Regions from separate parts of the Homo sapiens genome. Here region 2 is linked to region 1. Evidence: fine-mapped expression QTL. Tissue or cell type: monocytes. Region 1 holds a variant in brackets; the other region holds the start of a gene. All regions are shown on one strand. Distances are from middle to middle.

Region 1 (8,181 bases):
AGGGCATGCCAGCAGAAGGAACAGTAGGTACGACAACCCTAAGGTGAGAACAAGGTTGGTGCATGAGGAACAGAAAGAAGGCCAGTGTGGCTGGAGCATGGTGAGTGAGTGGGGAGGGAATACAACACGAAGTTGGAAAGATAAACAAGGGGTGAATATCCACCTTGATTTCTGACTCAGCGTGTCCATTCCAAGCTCAGCCTTTCCACTCCCCACCCCAACCCATTCCTCCAAAATGTTCGTTTTCCATGAAAGTCTTCATTATTTGCCCAATAGATGAGACTCTAAAGCTGGAGTCTTCCTTGACTGCCCATTCAGAATCATCATCATTCTGAACTGTTTCTTCTGTTTATGCTCTCCTTTTCCTTCGTATTGATATACTTTCCCTGAATCTGATTACATCTGTATTGTCATAACCCCTTGAAAGGCCTGCCTGCCTCGAGGATCCCCTAGCTTCAGCAGTATTTTGATTCTCCTCCTTCCAGGTACACAGTAGGATGTTTTTTCCACCTCCTTGAAGATAGGCATGGCCCTGGGATTTGCTTTGGCCAGTGAAATACGAGGGAAGCACAAGAGTCACACATTTCCTCCTCTGCCACATGACTAGTGATTGTTCAAATGGTGGAGACTCTGTCAGCCTGGGGCCCTGGTGAGAATGACATGAAGCAGAGTTCCCTACTTGTTACCTGCTTGCTCCCAGACAGACTTCAGCATCAGTGAGAAATAAATCTTAGTTGTTTCAAGACACAGAGCTTTTAGGATTATTCCACACCATAGCATAAACTAGCCCAGTACTTCTGTGATGATAAATGATGTTACCTGAAGAATTTGTTAAAATGCAGACTGCAGTTCTGTAGGTCTGGTTGGGGCCTAAGATTCTTCCTTCCCTCTCTCCCTCCCTCCTCCCTCCCTTCCTTCCTTCTCTTTCTTCCTTCCTTTCTTCTCTTTCTTTCTTCCTTTCTCCTTCCTTCCTTTTTTCCTTCCTTCCTGTCTTCTCTTTTTCTTTCTTTCTTCCTTTCTCCTTCCTTCCTTTTTTTCTTCCTTCCTTCTTTCTTTGTTTCTTTCTTTCTTTTTCTTTCTTCTTTCTTTTTTCTCTCTTTCTTTTTCTTTCTCTCTCTCTCTTTCTTTTGTAGAGACAGGGTCTTGCTATCTTGCCCAAAATGGTCTTAGAACTCCTAGGCTCAAGCAATCCTCTTGTCTCAGCTTCCCAAAGTGCTGAGATTACAGGTGTGAGCCACCACGCCTACCTAGATTCTGCATTTTTGACAAGCTCTCAAGTGATGCTGATGCTGCTAGACCTTGGACCACACTTTGAATAGTAAGCACCTAACCTGCACACAAACCCATACACACTGTCGTACATCTCACCAGCACTAAACCTGCCTAAAAAATTATAAAAGTAAGCAGGCCAGGCACGGTGGCTCATGCTTGTAATCCCAGCACTTTGGGAGACCGAGGCAGGTAGATCACTTGAGGTCAGGAGTTTGAGATCAGCCTGGCCAACATGGTGAAACCCTGTCTCTACTAAAAATACAAAAATTAGCCAGGCGTGGTGGCGTGTGCCTGTAATCCCAGCTACTCAGGAGGCTGAGGTGGGAGAATCACTTGAACCCGGGATGCAGAGGTTGCAGTGAGCCAAGATTGGGCCACTGCACTCCAGTCTGGGTGATAGAGTGAGACCCTATCTCAAAGAAAAAAAAGTAGGCAAGGAACTTTATTGGTGATATTCTTCACAAACCCTCAGCAGTTTCCTGCACCTGCAACTCCTCAGGTACTATAGTCATGTTTTCTTGTATTCCAGTGTCTGGAATTTATTCCTTCTGGTGGATTCTTGGTCTTGCTGACTTCAAGAATGAAGCCGCGGACACTCGCGGTGAGTGTTACAGTTCTTAAAGATGGCGTGTCTGGAGTTTGTTCCTTCAGATGTTCAGATGTATCCAGAGTTTCTTCCTTCCAGTGGGTTCGTGGTCTCGCTGACTTCATGATTGAAGCCGCAGACCTTTGCAGTGGGTGTTATAGCTCATAAAGATATTGCCGACCCAAAGAGTGAGCACCAGCAAGATTTATTCTGAAGAGTGAAAGAACAAAGCTTCCACAGCATGGAAGGGGACCTGAGCAGGTTGCTGCTGCTGGCTAGGGTGGCCAGCTTTTATTCCCTTATTTGGCCCTGTTCCCCCACATCCTGCTGATTGGTCCATTTTACAGAGCATTGATTGGTCCATTTTACAGAGTGCTGATTGGTGTGTTTACAATCCTTTAGCTAGACACAGAGCGCAGATTGTTGTGTTTACAATCCTCTAGCTAGACAGAAAAGTTCTCCAAGTCCCCACCTGACCCAGAAGCCCAGCTGGCTTCACCTCTCATTCCCAGTACAATTGTTTTTTCACATTCTCCCGTCTGTCTTGTAATTTTCTACATCTCTCTATGAGACCACTCATTTTTTTTCTTTAGTAATAGAAACCTCAAGTTTCAATTTGGGCATGTGGCTTCCCAGCTAAAGCCCATATATTTTTCCCCAGCTTCCCTGGCAATCAACATTGGAGGTGTGACTAAGTTCTAGTTAGTGGGATGTGAGGGAAAGTGATGTTTGAAACACCTGGGTTGTACCTTTAAAAGAAAAGGATATGTTCTCCTCTTGCTCATTTTCTCCCTTCTCGTCAGAACACAGACCCAGAAGATAATTATTTTTGGCCATGAGGACAAGGCCTGTACTTTAGCTGGTGGCAGAGCAAAAGTTAGAAGAAACCTGTGTCCTTAACACCATGAGGCATCCTATCACCTCAGACCACTTGTGCTCAGACATGAGAAAGCTTGTTAAGCAATTGCTGTTAATGGGAATCTTTGTTACAGCAGGTGAATTTATATCCTAGAGAAGCTGCTCTTCCTTAGAATGCATTTCCCCCTTTGTTCTTATCAAATTTCTCATTATTGAAGGTTCAAAACAGGTCCTACTGCTGCGTCCGGCTTACACTACCCCCTTCTCTGAACTGCCATCATACCTGGGCATGTGATATGAGTGTAGTATAAAATGAGATTGATTCCAGCAGCCACACATGAAAATAAGACTGCTAACCTTACAGCCACTTAAAAAGAAACTGATTCCTAAATGGTGAAGAAACAGAACATAAGAGCTACAGGAATTCAGAGATGGGGTAAGCAGTGAGGACTGAAAGGATCAGGAGATATCATTATTTATCTCATTAGTTTTCAAACTGGAGACTGTGTACAGGAAGACTTTCCAAGGGTTATTTAGGAAACATTGTTTCAAGGGAATTAATTTGCTACTCCTCATCTGGATTAATTCTTTCCTAAAATTCCTCTTCCTGAAAAAGCCGTTGAAACAATTCTTCTTTCCTTTCTCCCCTTTCTCAATCTGTCCTTTTATCTTACAAAAGAAAAGTGTGACCTGACTCACTTCTCATCTTATTATCATTTATTCGCTGGGTGCATAAAAACACCCAGGTTGTCAAACAATCCTTGTGCTGGCAAAGCCTTCAATCAAGATATAACAGTAGACTTCATGTCTTTCCCTGACTTACATATATTCCTGTTAAGGGCAAAAC[A/G]TGGCTTTAAGAATGGAAATTTCAGCCCATGTGGGATATTCTGTGTACATAAATATGGTACAGTGGAGCAGTGTTTTTTTTTTTTTAATTTGTAATTCTCATTTATTGAGGAAAATATAAGTAGAGGGCAGTTTTCAGTCCCACCGTTAGTCCTTCTTCCCCAGATTCCTTATTCCACTTTTGTCTGTCTGATGAGTCACTTTCATTCTTTAACCCTGCCCTTTGTATTTTTTTAAAAAAATAATTAATTTTATGGCCAGATATGGTGGCTCACACCTCCCAGCACTTTGGGAGGCCACAGCAGGCAGATCACTTAAGGCCAGGAGTTCGAGACCAGCCTGGCCAACATAGTGAAACACTGTCTGTACTAAAAATGCAAAAATTAGCCGGGCATGGTGGTGCATGCCTGTAATCCCAGCTACTTGGGAGGCTGAGGCATGAGAATGGCTTGAACCAGGGAGGCAGAGGTTGCAGTGAGCCAAGATCATGCCACCGCACTCCAGCCTAGGCGACAGACCGAGACAATCTCAAAATAAAAATAAAAAAAAAGTCTTTTTTTGGATACATAGTAGGTGTATATTTATAGGGTATCTGAGATGTTTTAATATAGGCCTGCAATGTGAAATAATCACATCATGGAGAATGGGGTATCCATCCCCTCAAGCATTTATCCTTTGAGCTATAAACAATCCAATTACACTCTTTATTTATGTATTTGTTTATTTATTCATCTTGTTTTTTTTTTTTTTGAGACAAGATACTGCTCCGTCACCCAGGCTAGAGTGCAGTAGCGTGATCATGGCTCACTGCAGCTTCAACCCCCCTGGCTCAAGCGATCCTCCTGCTTCTGTCCCCCAAGTAGCTGGGACTATAGTTAAGCACTAATACATCCGGCTAATTTTTTTGAATTTTAGTAGAGACAAGGTCTCATTATGTTGCCCAGACTAGTCTCAAACTCCTGAGCTCAAGTGATCTCCCACTTCAGCCTCCCAAAGTGATGGGATTACAGGCATGAGCTACCGTACCCTGCCCACTTTTAAGTTATTTTAAAATGTACAATTAAGTTATTATTAACTATAGTCACCCTATTTTGCTATCAAACAGTAGGTCTTATTCATTCTTTCAATTCTTTTTTGGACCTATTAACAATTCTTACCCACCTCCCGCAAGTTCCCGCCACCCTTCCCAGCCTCTGGTAACCATCCTTCTACTCTCTATGTCCATGAGTTCAATTGTTTTGATTTTTGATCCCACAAATAAGTGAGAACAGAGCAGTGAGTTTTTTATTTACATCACCGATACCAATCTCTGACTATTATCAAAGAATACATTGCTTCTGGAGGGAGATTCTCCTGAGAGCAAAGTAAAGAGAGCATAATTAAATATTAAAGGTGAGAGAGCCTTATTTCATTTAAGTGGCACATTTATGGCAAGGTTTGTGGCCTATCTCTCTTGGGACTATGATATGTAAGACTTACAATTTTTATTTTTATGCTGGGAAGTAATAAAGGGCAATGATCCCTCTCTGGTCAGAAACAAGAAAAAGCTGAGTAATACTCCTCATTTACTCATGTCTCGACTTGAGTTTCAATTTTATATTTTGCATTACTTCTAGGAGAAGTATGGGGAAAGTACATGTTTACATGTTTTCACAGATCAACATTATGCCATCAAGTAAAAGGAAAATATGTCAAAAACAAATTTGTCTTTTATATTTTCTTGAATGTTTATTCAGGCTTGCAGTAAAAACGTTTTCATTTTCCTTTGTCAAAAGATTATTGGCTATGCCACTTCATACCTATGCAGATGGCTATAAGAAAAAACACAATCATTGGGCGGTTGCAGTGGCTCACGCCTACAATCCCAGCACTTTGGGAGGCTAAGGTGGGTGGATCACCTGAGGTCAGGAGTTCAAGACCAGCCTGGCCAACATGGAGAAACCCTGTCCCTACTAAAAATTAATTAGCCGGGTGTGGTGGCACATGCCTATAATCCCAGCTACTCAGGAGGCTGAGGCAGAAGAATCGTTTGAACCCGGGAGGCAGAGGTTGCAGTGAGCTGAGATCACGCCATTGCACTCTAGCCTGGGCAAAAAGAGCAAAATTCTGACTCAAAAACAAAACAAAAAAACCCACCACAATCATTGTTGAAAATAACAACCATTAGCAAGAAAATAACAACCACTGAGGAAATTGGAACCCTCATACATTGCTGGTGAGAATGTAAAATCATTCAGCCACTATGGAAAACAGTTTGGCAGTTCCTCAAAAAGTTAAACATAGAATTACTATATGACCCAGCAATTCCACTCCTAGGTATATGACTGCTATAATTTGGATGTCTGTCCCCTCCAAATCTCATGATGAAATTTGATCTCCAGTGTTCCAGGTGGGCCTACTGGGAGGTATTTGAGTCATGGGAATAGATCCCTCATGAATAGATTAATGCCCTCTGTGGGGGACAGGTGAGTGAATTCTCATTCTATTAGTTTCAGTGAGAGTTGGTTGTTAAAAAGAGCCTGGCACCTCCTGCCCCATGCCCCTTGCCTCATCTCTTGTCATATTATCTCTGCAGAAGCAGCCTGAGGCCCTCCTCAGAAGCTGGGGAGATGCTGGTTCCCTGCTTCTTGTATAACCTGCACAACTATGAGCCAAAAAACCTCTTTTCTTTATAAATTACCCAACCTCAGGTATTCCTTTATAGCAACACAAGACTAAGACAATTTCCAAAAGAATGGAACACAGGTACTCAAGCAAGTACGTGCATGTTCACAGCAGCACTTTTCACACTAGGCAAAAGGTGGAAACAGTCCAAATGTCCATCAGACAAATAATGGATAAATAGATTGTGTATACATGCAATGAATATAATTCAACCATAGAAAGAAACAAAGAACTGATACATGCTATAATGTGAATGAATCTTGAAAGAAGCCAAATGCAAAAGGTCACATATTATTCCACTTATATGAAATATCCAGAATAGATAGCTCTATAGAGACAGAACACAGATTGGTGGTTACCAGATGCAGCAGGCAGGGGAGAATGAGAGTAACTGCTTAATGGGGATGGGGTTTCCTATCAGGGTGATGAAATGAGTCAGAACTAGGTAGATGTAGTGGTTGTACAACATTGTGAATGTACTAAATGCCACTGAATAGTCCACTTTAAAATGGTTAATTTGGCCCGGCACAGTGGCTCACGCCTGTAATCCCAACCCTTTGGGAGGCCAAGGTGGGTGGATCGCTTGAGCCTAGGAGTTCAAGACCAGCCTGGGCACCATAGGGAAACCCCCATCTCAAAAAAGAAGAGGGAAAAAAAGGGTAGTGAGACTGTAAAGCAGTTTCTTCCACTTCTTTCCTTTCTTTCCTTCCTTTCATACCAGTGGCTCTCAAATCATCCAGGGGAGCTTGGATGCAAACTTTTTCTTTTCTCTTTGAGACGGAGTCCCATTCTATACCCCTGGCTGGAGTGCGGTGGTACAGATCTCAGCTCACTCAAACTCTGCCTCCTGGGTTCAAGCAATTCTCCTGCCTCTGCCTCCTGAGTAGCTGGGATTAACGATGCGCACCACCACCCCCGGCAAATTTTTTAAAAATATTTTTGGTAGACGCGGGGTTTCACCACGTTGGCGAGGCTGGTCTCGAACTCCTGACCTCAAGTGATCCACCCACCTAAGCCTCCCAAAGTGCTGGGATTACAGGCATGAGCCACCATGCCTGGCCCATGCAAACTTTTTGACCCTAACATAGGCCTAAAAATCATCTTCAGAGTGAGGCATGAGAATCTGCATTTTATAAGCAGGTCATTCTGACACAGGTGGTCCCTGGACCACATTTTGAAAAATATTGCTATGATATCACCACACTAGTTCTGAACATCCAATTGGTGCTAGTTTAATAGGCTAAAAGCCATGACTCAGCAGGGGGCAGCAAAGCTTAATAGTGCTAGCCAATTCATTTATTCTCTCAATATGTGCCAGGCCTTAAACGAAGTCCTAGGGATAAAAGATGCATAAATCCACGCATGGTCTCTTCTCTGGTGGAGCTTAAAGTCTTCTGGGGAAGACAGGCATTAACCAAAGATTCATGAATGTAAAATTACAACTGGGATGTGTGAGATGAAGGAAAGGCACATGATATACTAAAATCATATGTTAAGGGGACCTAACTTAGCCTAGGGGGTTATGTCGCACAAGGGAAATGACATTTGAAGTAATATTTTAAAGATAAGAAGAGTTAATTAGGTTACATCAGATGGAGGGATAGTGGAAGGAGTAAGGGAGGTAGTGGAAGGAGTAAGGGAAGGAGTAATTTTCTGGACAAAGAAAACATAATAGCAGGAGTCCTGTGGTCACAGGACAAGAACAGTGTTTGTGAGGCCAGATGAAGCATGTCTGAGTCCTAGGAAGTAAGTAAGGAGCAGTCCTTGAGAGGCTTTGAAAGTCATGTTTCAAGGGATTGGTTTATATTTTAAGAACAATGGGATTCCATTGTGGAATTCTAAGTTGAAGTTGGGCAACATGGTCAATTTTGCATTTTGAAAAGGTCACTGGTTTCTGTGAAAAAAGATTGAGGGCAGCAACCCTAGAAGCTGGGCTATTATTCATATTTTATAGA
Region 2 (8,181 bases), 32 kb after region 1:
TCCTACCTCAGCTTTCTAAGTAACTGGGATTACAGCTGCATGCCACCACGCCCAGCCCCATTATGAAAAGTTTTCATTGACTTATACCTGTATCGTTTTTTTCTTTCAATAATTTTGGTATGAATGTATCTCTTTTTAAGATGAAGAAAACTTTCCCTAGAAATGTCTTCCCTCCTCCCTGGGCATTCTTCTCAACAGCTGACTTCCCTTTCATATTATTAGCTAAAATTGTACCATATGCCCATTTAAACCAATATTTTGTGAGGGTATGGGCCCACCATGATTGACTTAGACAATCACAATTTATCTCCTGGGACTGAGGTTGGAGCCTAGCACCCTTCAAGCACATGGCCAAGCATATTCAGTGTGGTTACTTGTCAAGCTAACAAGGTAGAAGAGAGAGCCTACTTCTAGAATAGGCTATCAGCGGGATCTCCCACGCCATGCTAAGGAATTTGGACCATATCTCATTGGAATAAGAAACTACTATGGGATCACAGGATGGGCTAAAAAAATAATAAGGAACTTCTGGAAGAAGGTACTTCTGGAATAGGCTGTCAGTGGGATCTGCCACACCATGCTTAGGAATTTGGACTATATCTCGTCAGAATAAGAAACTACTATGGGACCACAAGATGGGCTAAAAAAAAATAAGGAACTAGTGAAGGATTTTAGATCAGGAAGTAGCATGATGAGGTTTCCCAATGGTAACAGAATCAAGGGGCACTCAGGAGGGGCATGGGTCTGGGGGCAGGGCCACCAGTTGGAAGGCTTCATTAGAAGATCTTGGAGAGGATTTTAGGCAGTTGAATTAAGCACCCCTAGTGACTCATTGGATGGAAAGGGAGAAAGAAAGTTAGAAGGAAGATATTCTAGGATGACTCCCATACAGGTTCCTGCTCTGGTGAATCACAGGGTATTTTGTCAAGATGGAGAATATGGATGGAGGAGGTTTGGGTGGATATGATGAGAGTGGAGAGATAATGAGTTTATTTGGGACAATGGGGTGCCTGAAAGACAGGTGAAGAGAGATGGGTAAACTTGGAAGGGAGAGTGTAGACCACATGACACTCCTCCAAATTCCTTTAGAGGGTAGGGTGGGATGGAGTGTGGAGGGAAGGAGAATCCACAAGGGGAAATGAAGCAAAGCAAACAACTAGCACCTAATATGGGACCTGTTGGGCTGATTTTGCTCAGGGCTGGGCATCAAGCACATCTGGAGAAAAATTGCAAATGTAATTGTAAGGCAAGCCTTTAAAGAGCAGTTAAAAACCTGTTTTGAAACATAGGTTTCTATAACTTGTTGCAACATGTTGAGTTACAGCAAATGAAATAGAGAAATACTCTCAGTGCTTTTTAATTTGCCCTGCTGACTGGAAACCTCGGAACTCAGCCCTATGAGCTGTTAACCAGATAAGCATTGCTGGTTTTTGTAAAGAATTATGCTTGACAAATGCTTGAGGGCATATGGATTTATTGAAGGAAGTATTGTCCAAACCAGACTGACAAAGAAAGTTTTACAAAGAAAATATAATGAAAAAATGTTGGGATTAAAATGTAGGTCTTTTCTGTTTTATGATGTAGTTATGAAATGTAAATTAGAGGATGTTTCAATGAACTTTTGAATTATAAGTTAATATAGTTCATAAACCATAGGAATTAAGTACTATTTTAAAAATAGGAATTATACTTCCACTCAAAAACACCTATTTTGTGGAACACTAAAGTTTGAAATATATATGTATAGAGATTAGACTTAGAACTCACAGAAGGTAAATTCAAGAAATTTTTAAAAATTACTCCAAAACATTATTTTAGTTCTTTCCATATCTATTTTGTTCTAGGAACTGAACTGGGTTCTGAAATAATAAAAATAACTGGTATCTGTATAATGTTGTGGTTAATCCCAACTTTATGCAACTATTCTATTCAATGTGGTTTCTGGGGGTCCAGATAAAATATAACACTTGAAGCAGAGTGGGGATTGAGGGACAGAGAAAAAAAAACTGAGAACTGAGAATTGAAGAAGAAAGGCAAATTAGGAAGTTCAACAAGGTTAGGAGAGTAGTGGAGCCAAAAAAACAATAGTCATGAGAACTGAATATAGAAACTGGACAATGGCTAGATCTTATATGACAATTAGAACTCTGACCCACAACCTCTACAGCAACCAGCCGAGAATAATCAGGACTTGGTCAATGACTCAGTTTCCCTGTTTTTTGCCGCCTCCTTTCTTCAACTCAGAACCCACTAAAGACAGCCAAATATGCTACCTACCCCAAACCAATCACCTAAGAGACACTACTTTTGTTAGCCCACCTCCAGCTTTCCCATGCTAATACCCTCAAGTCAGAGTATACATGAAACCTTCCCTTTTTGTTCACTACTAAGCTTTCCTGGCCAGGTGCAGCTGCTCATCCCTGTAATCCCAGCACTTTGGGAGGCTGAGACAGGAAGACTGCTTGAGCCCAGGAGTTCAAGACCAGCCTGGACAACATAGTGAGACTCCATCTCTACAAAGAATTAAAAAAAAATAAGCTGGGCATGGTGGCACGTGCCTGTAGAGCCAGCTACTCAGGAGGTTGAGGTGGGAGGATCGCTTGCTCAGGAGGTCGAGGCTGCAGTGAACCACGATCGCACCACTGCACTCCAGCCTGGATGACAACAGAGTGAGACCCTGTAGGTAATTAAGTAAGTAAGTAGTTTTCCTAATGTCCTGACAGGCTTTGAGTCGGCCAAATGCAAGTGATGGTGACTGACTCCCTTGTCATAGTAAGCTTTGAATAAATAAAGCATTTGGGTGGTCTTCCTCCCCGATCCCCCCCATTCATTCATTTGCTTATTAATTATACATTAGTTGTGTTTTATCTGCCAGGCAGTGGCCAGTATTGGGAATATGTGGAAGCAAATAGTCCCTGCCTTCAAGGATATTCTGTCTAGTGGGACAGACAGACAGACATATACGTATAATAGTAATTCAACGTGCTAAGTGAAACAATAGGCATGTATAAAAAAGGTGTAGTAGGTCAAGTAGGGCTTTTAGGGGAAGGCGACCCTTAAGATGGGTGGTAAGGGATGAGTAGGAGGTGATTTGGCTAAGAGGCTGGGACGGTTATTCAAGGCAGGTGGAGGGGCAGAATGAGCAAAACAGGACGCGTTGCTGGAGCGTGGTAAGGAAGGCAAGTAGCGGCAGAGGACGGCGGTAGGGCGGATCGTGGGGCGCAATGGATGTGCCACGTTGGAAAGAGCTTGGACTTTATGCCGTCCTCCTGGAAATGAGATAACGGCTGGTGTAAGCAAGAAAGAAACACACACACACCCACGCGCGCGCGTCGTTTCCTTTGTGTTACTGTAAGGTCAAGGAGGGCGGCGACACAGAAATTCATGATGACTGGCATAAGCAGACATTCAATGAATGAATGAATGGACATAAGCACTTTGGTGTAAACGTCATTGTCTTCGATTTCTGTTTTCTCACGGGGCAAGACAGTGAGGTCGGGGCATCAGTTTGGGAGGTGATAGGGAAGGTTTAAGGTGAGAGAACTGCCATTCTGGTAGGGAGGGTCAGTGGGCACAAAACCAACAATAGGTTATGGGCAAGGGATGCGCTTCGGTCGCGAACACCCTGAACCCACCTACCGGAGCTACTCTGTCCCAGGAGCGGCCGTGGAGAAAGCAACCAGCCGAGAGTTCGCGCCCCAGGGAGGGAAGCGGGCACAGGGCCGCCCAGCGCCACTCACCTGTGAGCTCTCCGCGGGCCCTGCAGGCGGAGCCTCGGTACGACGCCTTTCCGATTGGGCGCGGCTCAAAGTCCCGGGGCGGGCATCAGAGGCCGAGCGCTCTAGGGGATTGGCCACCCTGGCGGACGGACGTGCTGCTGACCGAGCTGGTTCGCCCCCGGTTCGGCTCGTGGAGAGCCGGCCCCTCCGTGAGTCTTCTGTCAGTCATTGGCTCCCTGCGGTTTCCTTGGGGACGTGGCGCCGCCGCCGGCCGGGCCCTCCTTCCGGCTGGGCAAGGGGCCGCGGGGAGCAGCTCGGGACTGAACCGAGAGGTGCCGAAGGAACCGGCGGGCCGCTTGATCCCGTGAGTGTGGGCGCGAGAGGGCTGTGGGACCCGGAGGGACGGGGAGAGGAAGCGGGACCCACACCCCGCCACCTGGGGACGACCGGTTCCTAGAGGACAGAGCTGGCCCACGAGAACGCCCCGCTCCCAGGATGCCCGGGTAGGGTCCCCTGGGCCTGAGGAACCAGAGCAGACGGAGCGGGAGCCTGGGGAGGAGGTGGGAGCCGTGGAATTCCCGTGCAGGTTTGTCTCGTGGGCTCAGTCGGACAGAAGCCTGAAATCAAATCTTTCTAGGCTGCAGACGTAGGAGATGCCTGGGACAAGGAGGCCACCTTCTCAGGGCAAAAGAAAAAGAAGGTGACAGGCGTTGAGACCACCGAAGGGAACCCATGGCTAGGTAAGGCTGCACACTTTCCCTCCGGCTGGGAGCACGGCAGAGGATGGCAGGCAGGTTGGGGGGCCCTGGGAGGCTGTCCCAAGTGAGGTTTGCCCTGGAGCTGCACTTGGACTTTGTATTCTGGTTAGTTGGATGCAGAGACGATCAAAGTTGTATTATTTCGAGGGCTGATAAATAATAGTTTCTAGCCCATAGACCAGGAGTGGTAGAGTGAGTCGGCTTGCTCAGCTCTGTAAAGTGCAAGGTTGTAACATTGATTCAGATTCGCATCTGAGCAAGGCTAGGTGCCACTTGAGGAGGTTAAACAAAGAAGTTTTTTTGTTTTTTGTTTGCAGTGAACTTTAAAAGCAGACAGACCGAGGTCCTTTTGAATCAATATACAAAGTGAACTTCACAGATGAATACACTTATCCATACATTATAATAACCTGAAGCTTTTAAAAAATATTAATGTGGATCTACATGCACCAATAAGGGAAAGTTATAAAATAAAGTGGGGGAAAGATGCAGAACAGCAGGTATGGTGGACTACCATTTGTGTAAAACCGAGGGAATGGATACGCACACACACACACACACACACACACACACACACACAGAGATATATTACTGTAAATATATTGGTGTATATTTATGCTTGTGTATCCGTAGAATATCCCTGGAAAGATACACAGCAACGGCCAGGTGCAGTAGCTCACGCCTGTAATCCCAGCACTTTGGGAGGCCAAGGCAGGCAGATCACCTGAGGTCAGGAGTTCAGGACCAGCCTGGCCAAGTAGAAACCCGGTCTCTACTAAAAATACGAAAATTAGCCGGGTGTGGTGGCAGTCACCTGTAATCCCAGCTACTGGGGAGGCTGAGGGAGAAGAATCGCTTGAACCCAGGAGGTGGAGGTTGCAGTGAGCTGAGATTGCGCTACTACACTCCAGCCTGGGCAACAGAGCAAGACTCCATCTCAAAAAAAAAAAAAATTACACAGCAACTGGGTAGTAATGTTTGCCTCTGAGAGATTGTGGGGTCAGGGCAAGAATCACTTTTCACTATACAATATATCCTTTTAAACTGATTTGTCTTTTACTATGTGCTTGTATAATCTGGTAAAACATTTTTAAAATCAGTTAAATAAATTTTCTGACCATCCTGTTTCTTGACAGAATTCTTGGTTGGGAATACTGTAGTTGCTCTGATTCTCCAATGTTATGAGGTTGCCCAGGGAGACTGGTGATCTTTTCACTAACATGAGATTAAGTCTTTGAATTGCACTCAAAGTGCAGTTTGGAAAAAGGGCAGATAAGGCTTTTCTGATATATATAGTAGAAGCACCATGAGCTTCTTCTAAAATTAGAGATGACAAGAACATTTAGACTTCTGTTGGCATGGATTTTTGCCTTTATTAGGAGGGTTTTATCCAATTTTAAAACGATATTTAAGCACTCAGTTGTAGAAATGTTTCAGACTTACTAATGTTTGTCTAATTTCAGGATCAGTTTTTCCTACCTCTGCCCAGCCTCCTGGTACTTCACTGTGCCCACAGTGAGTCCATTTCTCCGTCAGCGGGTGGCATTCCTGGGACTCTTCTTCATATCCTGTCTCCTTTTACTTATGTTAATCATAGACTTTCGACATTGGAGTGCTTCATTACCACGAGATAGGCAATACGAAAGGTGAGTCAGCTTTAGATTTTGGCACTCAAGTCATAAATATTTTCATAAGCTGTTTAACACACTACTGACTTTGACCCTTTTGGGTGATACTGTACTTTTATTAGTAAAATTGCATGCCATTTATTACATAAAGAAGATTTTAAGCCCTATTTTGGCAATATGCAGTTTGGTACAGGAATACTGATACTGCATGAAAGGCATCTTTGTGTTTTCTTGTTTTGGTGGGCTGAAACTTATTGTGTGTATAAATGTTTAGGACTGTATTATACCTTTATGAATGGACCCCTTTATCATTATTAAATGATTTTCTTTATCCTTGATTATATACTTTGCTCTGAAATCTACTAGTCTGGTATTAATATAGCTACTCCAACTTTCTTTTGATTAACATTAGCATGACAGATATTTCTTCTATAGTTTTAGTTTTAGCCTATTGGTGTCTTTATATAAGTGGGCTTCTTGTAGTCAGTGTTTGGTTGGGTCTTGTTTTTTTATCCAATCTGACTATCTCTGCAGTTAATTGGGGTGTTCGGGCCATTTATATTTAATCTGATTATTTAGTATGTTTAGTTTTAATCTTGCTATGTGTTTTTCATTTGTCACATTTGTTCTTGTTCTTTTTCCTCTTTTTCCCTCTTCTTTTCAGTTGAGCACAGTTTTTATGTTTCCATTTTATCTCTCATGTTGGCTTATTAGATATAACTTCTTCTTTTTTTAGTGGTTACTTTAAAGTTTATAGTGTCATCTTTAATTATCACAATCTTCCTTCAAGTAATATTACTCCTCTTCACATCTAGAACAAGAACCTAACAACAGTATACTTTCATTCCTCCCTTCCCCTTGGTCTTTCTGCTACTGTCATGTATTTTATTTCTACATGTTATAAGCTCCACAATATATTGTTATTATTTTTGTGTTAGTCAATTGTCTTTTGAAGAGATTTTCAATATAAGAAAAAAAGGCTTATGTATTTAACCATATTGTTGCCTGAAAGGGTCATATAAGCAAAGTGACCCTTGAATGCTGAAGGGACGGAGAAACCAAAGGAGGAGGCAGGCAAATTGTTCGTTGGTATTCATTGATTTATTGAGGGAATTTGCAGACAGAAGCGTGGCCCTGGGTAGCTGCAAGACAGATAGATCTCCATACTGTTACTCCCCAGACCCAGGGCTTATATAGTACAGGGAGATGGTATATGCACCCTGTGCAAGACAATTAAAGACAGCCCTCCAGAACAGGTAAGAATGCTGCATGTGCCATATCCTGTCATTTGTGTGCCAACACCAAGGTTGACATGTTCTTACAGTAGTAAATAAAGCAGGAATCAAGAGGCATTTACGGGACTGAGGCTAGTCAGAAGTCAATGTGGCAGATTAACATCCAAGATGGAGTCACTTTTGTCTATATTTACCATTTCTGGTCTGCTTCATTCCTTTGTGTAGATCCATATTTCCATCTGGATCCATATTTCCATATTTGCTTTTACCTCAAGAACATTCTCTAGCATTTCTAGTAGAGCAAGTATGCGGTGATAAATTCTTTCAACTTTTATATGACTGAAAAAGTCCCTATTTTGCTTTCCTTTTGAAAGAAATGTTCATTGGGTATAGAACTCTAGGTTGATCATTTTTTTTCCTTTCATTACTTTAAAGATGATGCTTCACTGTCTTTTGGCTTGCATTCTTTCTGAGATGTCTGCTGTCCTTTTAATCTTTGTTCTCTCTGTATAGAATGTATCTTTTTCCTCTGAATACTTTTAGAATTTTCTGTTTATCACTGGTTTTAAGCAATTTGATTGTGATGTGCTTTGATGTTGTTTTCTACATGATTTTATTTGTTTTTTTTTTTTTTTGAGACTATCTCGCGCATCTCCCAGGTTGGAGTGCAATGGTGCAATCATAGCCCGCTGCAGCCTCAATCTCCTGGGCTCAAGCTATCTTCCTGCCTCAGCCTCCCGAGTAACTGGGACTACAGGCATATGCCATCATACCTGGCTAATTTTTTTGATTTTTAGTAGAAGTGAGGTCTCGCAGTGTTGCTCAAGCTGGTCTCAAACTG

Evidence for each region. PIP is the estimated chance that this variant, and not a neighbour inherited with it, causes the effect.
Region 2: it holds the start of ENTPD7, and the variant in region 1 is the best candidate, but not a certain one, in a credible set for the expression of ENTPD7 in monocytes (Quach 2016, PIP 0.57).

What each region holds. Positions count from the first base shown.
Region 1 is chr10:99,623,147-99,631,327 of GRCh38, forward strand. It overlaps LOC105378450 (a long non-coding RNA gene), which reads left to right and starts at 1,636. Exons shown (of 5, transcript XR_007062264.1): 1 at 1,636-1,873. It also overlaps a transcript of SLC25A28 not described here. The variant A/G (reference allele first, on the strand shown) is at 3,564.
Region 2 is chr10:99,655,506-99,663,686 of GRCh38, forward strand. It overlaps ENTPD7 (ectonucleoside triphosphate diphosphohydrolase 7), which reads left to right and starts at 4,004. Exons shown (of 13, transcript NM_020354.5): 1 at 4,004-4,083; 2 at 4,357-4,459; 3 at 5,941-6,123. The coding sequence starts at 4,452. It also overlaps a transcript of SLC25A28 not described here. RefSeq lists silencers at 3,683-3,892, 4,013-4,232.